Linked DNA regions of Homo sapiens. The protein of the gene in region 3 interacts with the protein of the main gene of each other region in a pairwise test. Each region holds a gene or a part of one and is shown on either strand. Other genes may lie near its edges.

Region 1 (3,500 bases), on a different chromosome or scaffold from region 3:
ATTTACCTTCCTTCAGTGACAACTGTAACATTTCCTGATATCTGTTGTGTGTCAAGCAAGTAACAGGGAGGCAAATGGCATGTTAATAACATTGCTTCAGCATCTCTTCAAGTTTCTATTAAGGCATAAAGGCTAAATCTAGAGTATCACTATGGATTTTTTCTCTGAGAATAATAGCTTAGAATAATTTCCAAACAATTTATGTTTGTGATAGGAAAAAAGATCATAAGTTATTTTGACCAATTAAAAATGTATAGTTCAATTAAGGGAACACCATTAAAAAAAAAAACTTCAAAAATTTCCCAGCATTGTTCTAAGTCAATGTGGATCTGGAAACATTTTCTGCCTCCAGATTCATCTCTGATGAAGTCTGCATCATAGGTTAGGGATGACTCAGATATTCCAACTGCTTCATCGACTGAGTTCACCAACAGCCAGTCCATCTCCTGATTCAATGACTGTTTTCTAATTTTTTGCTAAACATATAAAGCATTTTCATGCCAAAAGTACTTGAGGCTCAGATTCCTGAGATAATAAAATCTTAACTCTAAAAGAGATCACCTTTTATAGATATGATACAATCCCATTTTTACAGCCAATGAAACTAAGGGCAAAGGTAGTTACTGAGGTAGCAATTTGGACATAAGAAAGAGGTAAAATGAACCTCAGATTTGGACAGGAGACTCAAGTCCTGTTCTTATCTTGGTTGCTGGCAACGGTCAGGCACTTACCCTCTCACTGCCTCAATTGTAAAATAAGGATGATGATATCTGACCCATTCATCAACAGAGATGTGGAGAGCATGAGAAAGGTAATCAAAGTAAAGAAAGTACTATGAGTTCATCATGGATTGTCATGCATTCTTTTTCTTTAAATTGTCAGTCAAATTGAACAGCTCCCCAAAATGATACGTTTTGTGGCATGCATACCAATTTTACAGTATTTTTCTGTTTTTTAAAAAAATTTCCTTGGGAATTAATTCTGATTGTTATGTGAGGATGTTAAGAAGCAGGGCGTAGACCTTTCTTTAACAGGTAGGAGAGGACAGTATAGGGAGCTAAATGATTTGCTAAAGACCACATAACCTTCACCTGTTAGTGTGGGGCAATCAAGACTCACCCCTTTGAGAAATGCCAGCATTCCATGACAGAAGGGCAGGCAGGTAATGTGTTTTGAATCACCTGCTCAAAGATTGTAAAGATTGTTTTAAATCTTCTAAGATTCTTGGAAGACAAAAAGTCTACAAGCAAAAGCAAAAGTGCAAAAGTTGTGGAAAAATTCATGAAAATGTATCATTTTAGCCTCCCAGAGCCCCACCACCCAGGCTACCCCACTACTTCTCGGACCATGTCAGGGATCAGTCCCCTCCTCTCTGCCTGAGTGGACTGGAGGCTGCCTCTGAACCCGGTCCCACCTCACCCCTGAAAAACTTATCAGTCTAACCCTTGCTCGCCTTGCCTGGGTGTCCTGTATACCTAAAGGGAGGCACAGACTGTGGAGTAATAACATTTGAGAATGGAGCCAGGGTTGACTTTTTTTCTGCTTCACCAGCCAGATCCTGGTTTCTTTCCCAGATTTGCCATTAACTTGCTGTGTGTCTTTAGGGAATGCATGGTTTTAACACTTCTGATCTTTACTTCCTCATTTGTGTGAAACAAATTGTAAGATCCATCTTCTAGGACTGTATATTAAATAAAACAAAAAAATGTAATAAGCTTAACACAGTGCTTGTACACTATAAACCCTGAATACATGATGTTGTTTTTCCTTCTTAATGTTTATTCCTTTCTTCCAATTTTTTTATTTTCTTTCTTCCTTGCATATTCTCTTTCTTCTTTTCACCTATTTAGAGCTGTACTTTTTTTTTTAGAAGTATACCTTATATTTTATCACATTTTATGTCTGAAATACCCACACAAATAATTTCCTAAGTAGTCAGGCTTTTAATAATAGCTAACTTTCATGAACGGGGGACAGGGAAAGAGTTCTTTCAAATCACAAGAAAAATTCTTTCAGAGTTGCTACTTTCCATTGTTGGTTTAAAAATCAAGTTTAAAATATAAGTATTTATTGTAACTATACACATCCACACACATATGTAGACATGCACATACATATTTTTTATTTTTCACATGTGACTAATACATCCTAATCCAGCTCTTTCCTTGTGGCACTTTCCACAGTGGGATTCTTCATTTTTACCTAAAGTTGTAAGGATTTGTAACTGCTGTACATGCTGTTAAAAAAATCAAATGACTTTTTATAACCAGGGTTAAACATGCAAATATCATTCATGTGTTCCTTTTTATAATCACATGGCTAATAACTATTTTGAATAGTTCTCAGTCAAACCTTCCTCATTTTTTAGTAATTGCAGCTATAATAATTTTAAATAGCTGCATTATCTGCAGTAACTTTCACCATCCCAGTGCAATATTTTTCATAGTAAAAATATCTGTCTCAGGTATTGCTTACTTTAGTTTTCTTTTTTTAAAATCTTGCATAATTAAGACGTTAGAAAAGCGCTCTGATTTCAGTTGGTTTCTCAGATACATGAAGTATGGCCAAGACATTAAGTGAGTAGGACTCTAGGTTTCAAGATAAATATTCCATGGATGTGTGGCTCATCAGCCTCTTTGTAATTTTTCAATTAGATGAAGTAATTTTAAAAAGTGTGTGAGACTATCATGTTAACCATTGATTTCCAAGAGATACACGACAATTCATCTCTGTATTAATCTAAAAATTAAAGTTTTCTGTTAAAAAGATATCTTACAGATTTCCTTTCACTTTAATACACATTATTTTTTAATGCATTTACAGAAAATGTGGAAATGTACATCGGTTTCCACAGAACGACTGCTAACCCCCTCTAAGCTCTAAAAGCCTTTTAAAAAGGACAATTATTAATGGCACCCAAATTCAGGAGATTGTTGACTTACTGGTATACAAATACATGTCTGTGTTCAGAGGAAGCCTGTATTTTTTAGGACAATTCCCTTTACCACACACACAGATGGGAGCAAAGTGGGAGGTAATATGCAATGAAACAGCCACTGAACGACCAAGCATACCCGCTTCACATAAATACAGCCCCACTGTATTTAACTCCCGGGAGAGTCTAGCATCGCAGCTAACAATGGATGAAACCACGGACCAGAATTCCAAGTTAGAATGCAATATACAGAGGGTGTAAATATACTACAGTGTTCTACCACAAAAAGATATATGGTATGTAACTTATTTAGAGCAGTTTCAAAGAAGTCGACAAAGTAGGAGTTACATTAGTCTCTGTACAGCACAGTCTGCTATTACCAGTCAATAGGTACAAATTTCTGTAAAATTAAGCAACATTCTTACCTATGGTGGTCAGATGGTATTTGATTGTTTTTTAATTTCTTTTCATCTGGAAATCCCATCTAAGGGAACCCTCATCCACCCATGAAGCTTCAGACCTCTCTGCCAAAGGTCTCTTCCCTTGTATCTTTAAAGGAGTGGTT
Region 2 (3,500 bases), on a different chromosome or scaffold from region 3:
GCTGAGGAGGCAGAAGCTGTATTATAAGGATGAAGCACAAAGTGTGAACAATTTGTTCTGTTCAATCCTACATAAGAAAAAAATGAGAAGAGTTTTCATTGGTCCGTTACTTACATCTTAGAAAGGATTTCTGAAATAAAAATGTATTTCTTTTTTTTTTTTTTTTTGATATGGAGTCCCACTCTGTCACCCAGGCTGGAGTGCAGTGGCACGATCTTGGCTCACTGGAACCTCTGCCTCCTGGGTTCAAGTGATTCTCCTGCCTCAGCCTCCTGAGTAGCTGGGATTACAGGCATCTGCCACCATACCTGGTTAATTTTTGTATTTTTGGTAGAGACAGGTTTTCGCCATGTTGGCCAGGCTGGTCTTGAACACCTGACCTCAGGCGATCCGCCACACTTGGCCTCCCAAAGTGCTGAGATTACAGGTATGAGCTGCTGCGCCCTGACTAAAAATGTATTTCTTGGCCTGGCATGGTGGCTCACGCCTATAATCCCAGCACTTTGGGAGGCTGAGGTGGGTGGATCACTTGAGCTCAGGAGTTTGAGATCAGCTTGGACAATGTGGTGAAAACCTTTCTCTACAAAAAATACAAAAAAATTAGCCAGACGTGGTGGCACATGCCTGTAACCCCAGCTACTTGGAATGCTGAGGTGGGCGGATTGCTTGAGCTTGGGAGGCGGAGGTTGCAGTGAGCCAAGATCAGGCCACTGCATTCCAGCCTGGGCGATAGAGTGAGACCCTTCCACAAAACAAAACAAAACAAACAAACACAATATATATGTATATTTCTCGAATATTAACTTTATTCAGGGAGCTGTTATAAAAAGGGCTAGATGGCCCAACAGATAGTTCCACAAAAGAACAACTGTTTTGCAGAGCAAAAATTACAATTAGCTAATTGCCTACCATCTTCTCTCACACTGTAGAACATACTGTAAATCCACGAATTTCCGCTTCCATTTTGTGAACTGGACATTTATCTAAGGATGTATATAAACAGTATTGGGTGCCGTGTGAGGGGCTGTACATGTTTCCTCTTCTGATCTGATCTTACAACACCCCCAGGACACTATGGCCACATCCAATTTTTTAGCTGAGGAGGTGGAGAGATTAAGCTATCTAACCAAGGTCACATAGTAAGTGAGTGGCAGAGCCATGTTGGAATCAGTTCTGTCTGACTCCAGGACCTGGGCCCTAGATTAGAGCTTCTTAAATGGGTGGAAACCTTTTAGACTGTGACCACAGTTAGAAATACCCTTTACAGTGAGATCCCATATACACACATGTGCACACACATACACACACACAACATAGATTTTCACTGAGCAATACTCTTATGACATGCTCTGCATGCTGACTTTTTCTCTCTATCCTATTTCATTTTTTAAAATGCTGATTGTGATGTACTAGATTGATTTTACAACCCACTGATGTGTCATGACCCACAGTTTGCCTCACTTTTAGCATTCAAACATGGTGACACCTTGGCTGTCTCCTCCAAACTCATGAACAGCCCAGAACTGGATTTAGTTGAATCTGTAATTCCAGTAGAAAGTTTGGCCTTTCCCCAGGGGAGACCAATCTGGGTTGGGGTCATTGTTCTTTGTGATACTGGATTTACTTTCTTTTGCCATGGTATGAAAAGTATTAATATGGAGAATACATTTGAGAAAAGGTATTCCATGAAGACAAATTCAGACACATAACTTTTTGTGTTCATTCATAACTAGTGTCTTGACACTGTTTGAAATCAATGTTAAGAAAAATCATGTGACAAGGTTGATCTATTACAGGAAAAACTGGTGATTTGGTTCATGTTTTAGAGAAGAAAGATGTAATTTCCATATCACTCATAAAAAAGAGGCATTATCAATTTTTTATTAAAAGATCATGCACCTCAGACTAAACCCCACTAAATGCTGGTTCGGGTCTTCTTTCCTTGAAAATGTTTCGTTTCAAAAAAGTGGCTTCACAAAGAATAGGTTTGTTTCCTTGTATCCCAAGCAAGTCCACGGAGACATCTTTCATTAGATGTCAGGGAGCAGTGTTACAATGGGTGGGGATAGGATTTTATAAAGAACATGGGCAGATGAAATGAAAACTTGCTGTGTTAGAGGTGGGATATACTTGTGTGACTGAACCGCTCCTTTCTCCTCCTTCTCCCTTTACTCATTTTCTAATTTCTGCATACCCACTGGGATCACAGCTACTTTTATGACCTCCAATGGGAGAATGTATTTCAATTTAAGTCAGTGAGAAGGTACTTTACGGAAAGTACTTTCTTCTCCCTCACCCCCAAACAAATGAAATTAGATTTTTAAAGTGGGTCCCTGGGAGAAAACGTTGCTGGGGAATCTTTCTGAGTATGAGTCCACCATTTTGAAGCCTTCTATTGATGGTGCCTTGTGTTATCTGCTTTCTATTTCTTTGAAAACATTTTCTGTGTGTTCTCAATGGCTGCTGATTTCCGAACAAGCCTCTCCTACCCTGTTGGCCTCTGTTTTGTCTCTTCTGAAGAAAATATCCTGCAAAATGGAGAAACACATCAACCTTGACTGTGATCCAAGTTATTAAAACAAGGAAGAAGTTATTCTCTGGGGACTCGGGTAGGGGGAGTGGGAAATCGAACACAATAGAAATGTGAAAGGAGTGCTCAGCAAAATGAATGTCCCTTTGCTGGTCCAAGAAGTTCACAGGCTGTTGGGAACACACAGTATTCAACCTGTGGATGCTTGAGAGGAAAAACAAAAAAGACTCAACAATGAGTGATGTGTGGTGAAAACAAAGCTGTGCGTTTTGGTAGGGCCAAGGCTGTCGAATCTGGAGAAAATCCCCGCTAGACATGGTCTCATCCCTGAGAACCTGTGCCAAAAGAGATAGCTGTCTTCTCTGGCTGGGAGCTCCAATACACAGCCCAGCACCTTCCCTCGCGGGCTCGTGAACATAAGGTATCCGTCCAAGAGATTTACTTCTTGGAAATAGATAGCTTGCTTTTAAGTGGCTCCCGGAGCCTGAGATGCAAAGTGAAGGTGGGGAGCCTCAGTTCTGTGAATATCAGCATTGCCGAGCCTACTCCATCTCCACCCCCAGCAACAAGTTATTAATTTTCCACCGTTTAAAGTTTCATTTAATGCCATTTAAAGAGTTTTTTTTCTTTATTATTGCCTTGCATTGGACTTGGCCTGAGGTCTGTTAACCCTGCCAACCAGAACGAAGAATGGGACTCCAGGGTTTGATAAAGATGGAGACTCGTGACTTAGCTCTGTGTCCCTCTCACTTAGTGTGGACTGATTCGGAAGCTTCTTTCCTTTGCTTCTCACTTTTCTGCTTCTTCTTTCTCCTCCCTGGCTGTTGGCCTTTTCTATCCTTTTATTTTTGGACATGCATTTGATGAATGTATTGAATTTTTTTATTATGTAAGTAATGTGTATAAATTATAGAACAGTTAGAAAATACAACTACGCAGAGAAGGAAATTAAAACTCCCCCCAAAAGCCT
Region 3 (3,500 bases):
GTGCCTGTAATCCCAGCTACTTGGGAGGCTGAGGCAGGAGAATCGCTGGAACTTGGGAGGTAGTGGTTGCAGTGAGCTGAGATTGTGCCACTGCACTCTAGCTGGGCAACAGAGTACAACTCTGTCTCAAAAAAAAAAAAAAAAAAAAAGGGCTGGGCATGGTGGCTCACGCCTGTAATCCCAGCACTTTGGGAGGCTGAGGCGGGTGGATCACCTGAGGTCAGGAGTTGCAGACGAGCCTGGCCAACGTGGCGAAACCTCGTCTCTACTAAAAATACAAAAATTAGCCGGGCGTGGTGGCACTTGTCTGTAGTCCCAGCTACTCGGGAGGCTGAGGCAGGAGAATCATTTGAACCTGGGAGGCAGTGGTTGCAGTGAGCCAAGATCGTGCCACTGCATTCCAGCCTGGGTGACAGAGTGAGACTCTGTCTCAAGAAAATAATAAAAAAGTTAAAAAATGGCTGGGTGCCGTGGCTCACGCCTGTAATCTCAGCACTTTGGGAGGCCAAGGTGGGCAGAACACAAGGTCAGGAGTTCGAGACCAGCCTGGCCAGCATGGTGAAACCCTGTCTCTACTAAAAATACAAAAAATTAGCCGGGCATGGTGGCGCGCACCTGTAGTCTCAGCTACTCAGGAAGTTGAGGCAGGAGAGTTGCTTGAACTCAGCAGGCGGAGGTTGCAGTGAGCCGAGATCGTGCCATTGCACTCCAGCCTGGGCAACAGAGTGAGATTCCGTCCCCCCCCAAAAAAATATATATATATATATACATGTATACATGTATATATGTATATTCATGTATGATACATGTATACATGTATACATGTATATTCATGTATGCATACATGAATATACATGTATGTATATACATATATACACGTATATATACACGTATGTATATATGTATACATGTATATTCGTGTGTATATATGTATATTCATGTATGTATATATGTATATACATGTATATATATGTGTATATATATATATGTATGTCACCATTTACTAGTGTAAATGTGTAACTTTTTCAGTTTTTGTTTTTTTGAGATGGGGTCTTGCTGTGTCACCCAGGTGGGAGTGCAGTGGCACAGTCATGGCCCATAGCAGCCTCTACCTTCAGGGCCGAAGCCGTGAGTAGCTGAGACTGCAGGCCTATGCCACCATACTTGGCTTATTTTAAAGTTTTTTTCGAGAAACGGGGTCTCTATGTTGCCCAATCTGGTCTCAAACTCATGGGGGCTCAGGCAGTCCTCCCTCCTCAGCATCCCAAAGAGCTGGGATTACAGGCATGAGCCACAGTACCAGGCCTGTGGTAACTTCTTTATTTAACTATTTATGCCTCACCTTTTCTTTTCTTTTTTTTTGAGACGGAATTTTGCTCTTGTTGCCCAGGCTGGAGTGCAATGGCATGATCTCGCTCACTGCAACCCCTGCCTCCCAGGTTCAAGCGATTCTCCTGCCTCAGCCTCCCAACAGCTGGGATTACAGGTATGCGCCACCATGCCCAGCTAATTTTTTGTATTTTTAGTAGAGACGGGGTTTCTCCATGTTGGTCAGGCTGGTCATGAACTCGTGACCTCAGGTGATCGCCTGCCTTGGCCTCCCAAAGTGTTGGGATTACAGATGTGAACCACTGCGCCAGGCTTCTTTTCTTTTCTTTTCTTTTCTCTTTTCTTTTCTTTTTTAGAGATGGAGTTTTGCTCTTGTTGCCCAGGCTGGAGTGCAATGGCGTGATCTCGGCTAACTGCAACCTCAGCCTCCCAGGTTCAAGTGATTCTCCTGCCTCAGCCTCCCGGGTAGCTGGGATTATAGGCATGTGCCACCATGCCTGGCTAATGTTTTTGTTTTTTTAGTAGAGACAGGGTTTCACCATGTTGGCCAGGCTGGTCTTGAACTCCTGACCTCAGGTGATCCACCCACCTTGGCCTCCCAAAGTGCTGGGATTACAGGCGGGCATGAGCCACCACACCCGTTAATGTGAAGATAGTATATACTGGGTTGTTTAAATAGGATAATGCTTGCTAAGTACTTAACTTACTGCCTGATACATGCTAACACTCAATAAATTGTTGGCTATCACACACTAGCTGCCTAATATAAATGTTTATGAGTACATTGAGATAATTTTTTTTTTTTTTTTTTTGAGACAGGGTCTCACTCCTGTCACCCAGACTGGAGTGCAGTGGCACGATCTCGGCTGCCTGCAGCCTTGACCTCCCAGGCTCAAGTGATCCACCCACCTTTGCCCTCCAAGTAGCTAGGACTACAGGCAAATGCCACTGCCTGGCTAATTTTTGTATTTTTTGTGGAGATGGGGTTTTGCCATGTTGCCTGGTCTGGTATCGAACTCCTGAGCTCAAGTGGTTCCACCTGCCTCAGCCTCCCAAAGTGCTGGGGAGAGTCTAATATTTAAGGATGAGTTGCATTATATAATTTTGATTTGATATTGGATTTATTTTTATTTATTTATTTTGAGACGGAGTCTCGCTCTGTTGCCCAGGATGGAGTGCAGTGGCACAATCTCGGCTCGCTGCAACCTCTGCCTGCCCTGTTCATGCCATTCTCCTGCCTCAGCCTCCCAAGTAGCTGGGACTACAGGCGCCCGCCACTATGCCTGGCTAAATTTTTGTATTTTTATTAGAGACGGGGTTTCACCGTGTTAGCCAGGATGGTCTTGATCTCCTGACCTCGTGATCTGCCCGCCTTGGCCTCCCAAAGTGCTGGGATTACAGGCGTGAGCCACTGCGCCTGGTGATATTGGATTTATATATCTGGAGTCTGACATACATTTTTGAAAGAAATAGTTAGAATATCAAGGTAGCTTAGTAACTTTTTGCACCTATAATGGACTACTGTGTAGTACTTAATGGGAGTTTTTTTCTTTCTTTGGGATAGATTCTCGCTCTGTCACTCAGGCTGGAGTGCAGTGGTGAGATCAAAGTTCACTACAGCCTCAATCTTCTGGACTTAGCGATCCTCTCACCTCAGCCACCTCAGCAGCTAGGACTACAGGCGTGCACCACCACACCTGGCTAATTTTTTTTTATTTTTAGTACAGACGAGATCTCACTATGTTGCCCAGGTTGGTCTTGATCTTCTGAGTTTAAGTGATCCTTCTGCCTTGTTCTCCCAAAGTGGTGAGATTATACACAGGAGCCACTGTGCCCACCTCTGATGGGAGTTTTTAATTTATCACAGGTTTTCTTTTTCCTTTGCTGGATATAAAGCCTGTCTTAAGAAATGACATTTCAGGCCGGGCGTGGTGGCTCAGGCCTGTAATCTCAGCACTTTGGGAGGCCGAGGTGGGTGGATTGCTTGAGGTCAGGAGTTCAAGACCATCCTGGCCAAAGTGGTGAAACCCCGTCTTTACTAAAAACACAAAAATTAGCTGGGTGTGGTAGTGGGCGCCTGTAATCCCAGCTACTTGGGAGGCTGAGGCAGGAGAATCACTTGAACCAGGCAGAGGTTGCAATGAGCCGAGATCGCGCCATTGCACTCCAGC

What was found. The genes of interacting proteins can lie anywhere in the genome.
Region 1: the proteins of TAOK1 (region 3) and DYNC1I1 interact in a two-hybrid assay, tested with the Homo sapiens proteins (one large-scale study listed by BioGRID and IntAct).
Region 2: the proteins of TAOK1 (region 3) and WT1 interact in a two-hybrid assay, tested with the Homo sapiens proteins (one large-scale study listed by BioGRID and IntAct).

The regions. Positions count from the first base shown.
Region 1 is NC_000007.14:96,090,554-96,094,053, reverse strand, and holds part of DYNC1I1 (cytoplasmic dynein 1 intermediate chain 1), read right to left. Parts: intron 1-3,500. UniProt on the Homo sapiens protein: Acts as one of several non-catalytic accessory components of the cytoplasmic dynein 1 complex that are thought to be involved in linking dynein to cargos and to adapter proteins that regulate dynein function.
Region 2 is NC_000011.10:32,411,540-32,415,039, reverse strand, and holds part of WT1 (Wilms tumor protein), read left to right. Parts: intron 1-3,500. UniProt on the Homo sapiens protein: Transcription factor that plays an important role in cellular development and cell survival. Recognizes and binds to the DNA sequence 5'-GCG(T/G)GGGCG-3'. Regulates the expression of numerous target genes, including EPO.
Region 3 is NC_000017.11:29,396,863-29,400,362, forward strand, and holds part of TAOK1 (serine/threonine-protein kinase TAO1), read left to right. Parts: intron 1-3,500. UniProt on the Homo sapiens protein: Serine/threonine-protein kinase involved in various processes such as p38/MAPK14 stress-activated MAPK cascade, DNA damage response and regulation of cytoskeleton stability. Phosphorylates MAP2K3, MAP2K6 and MARK2.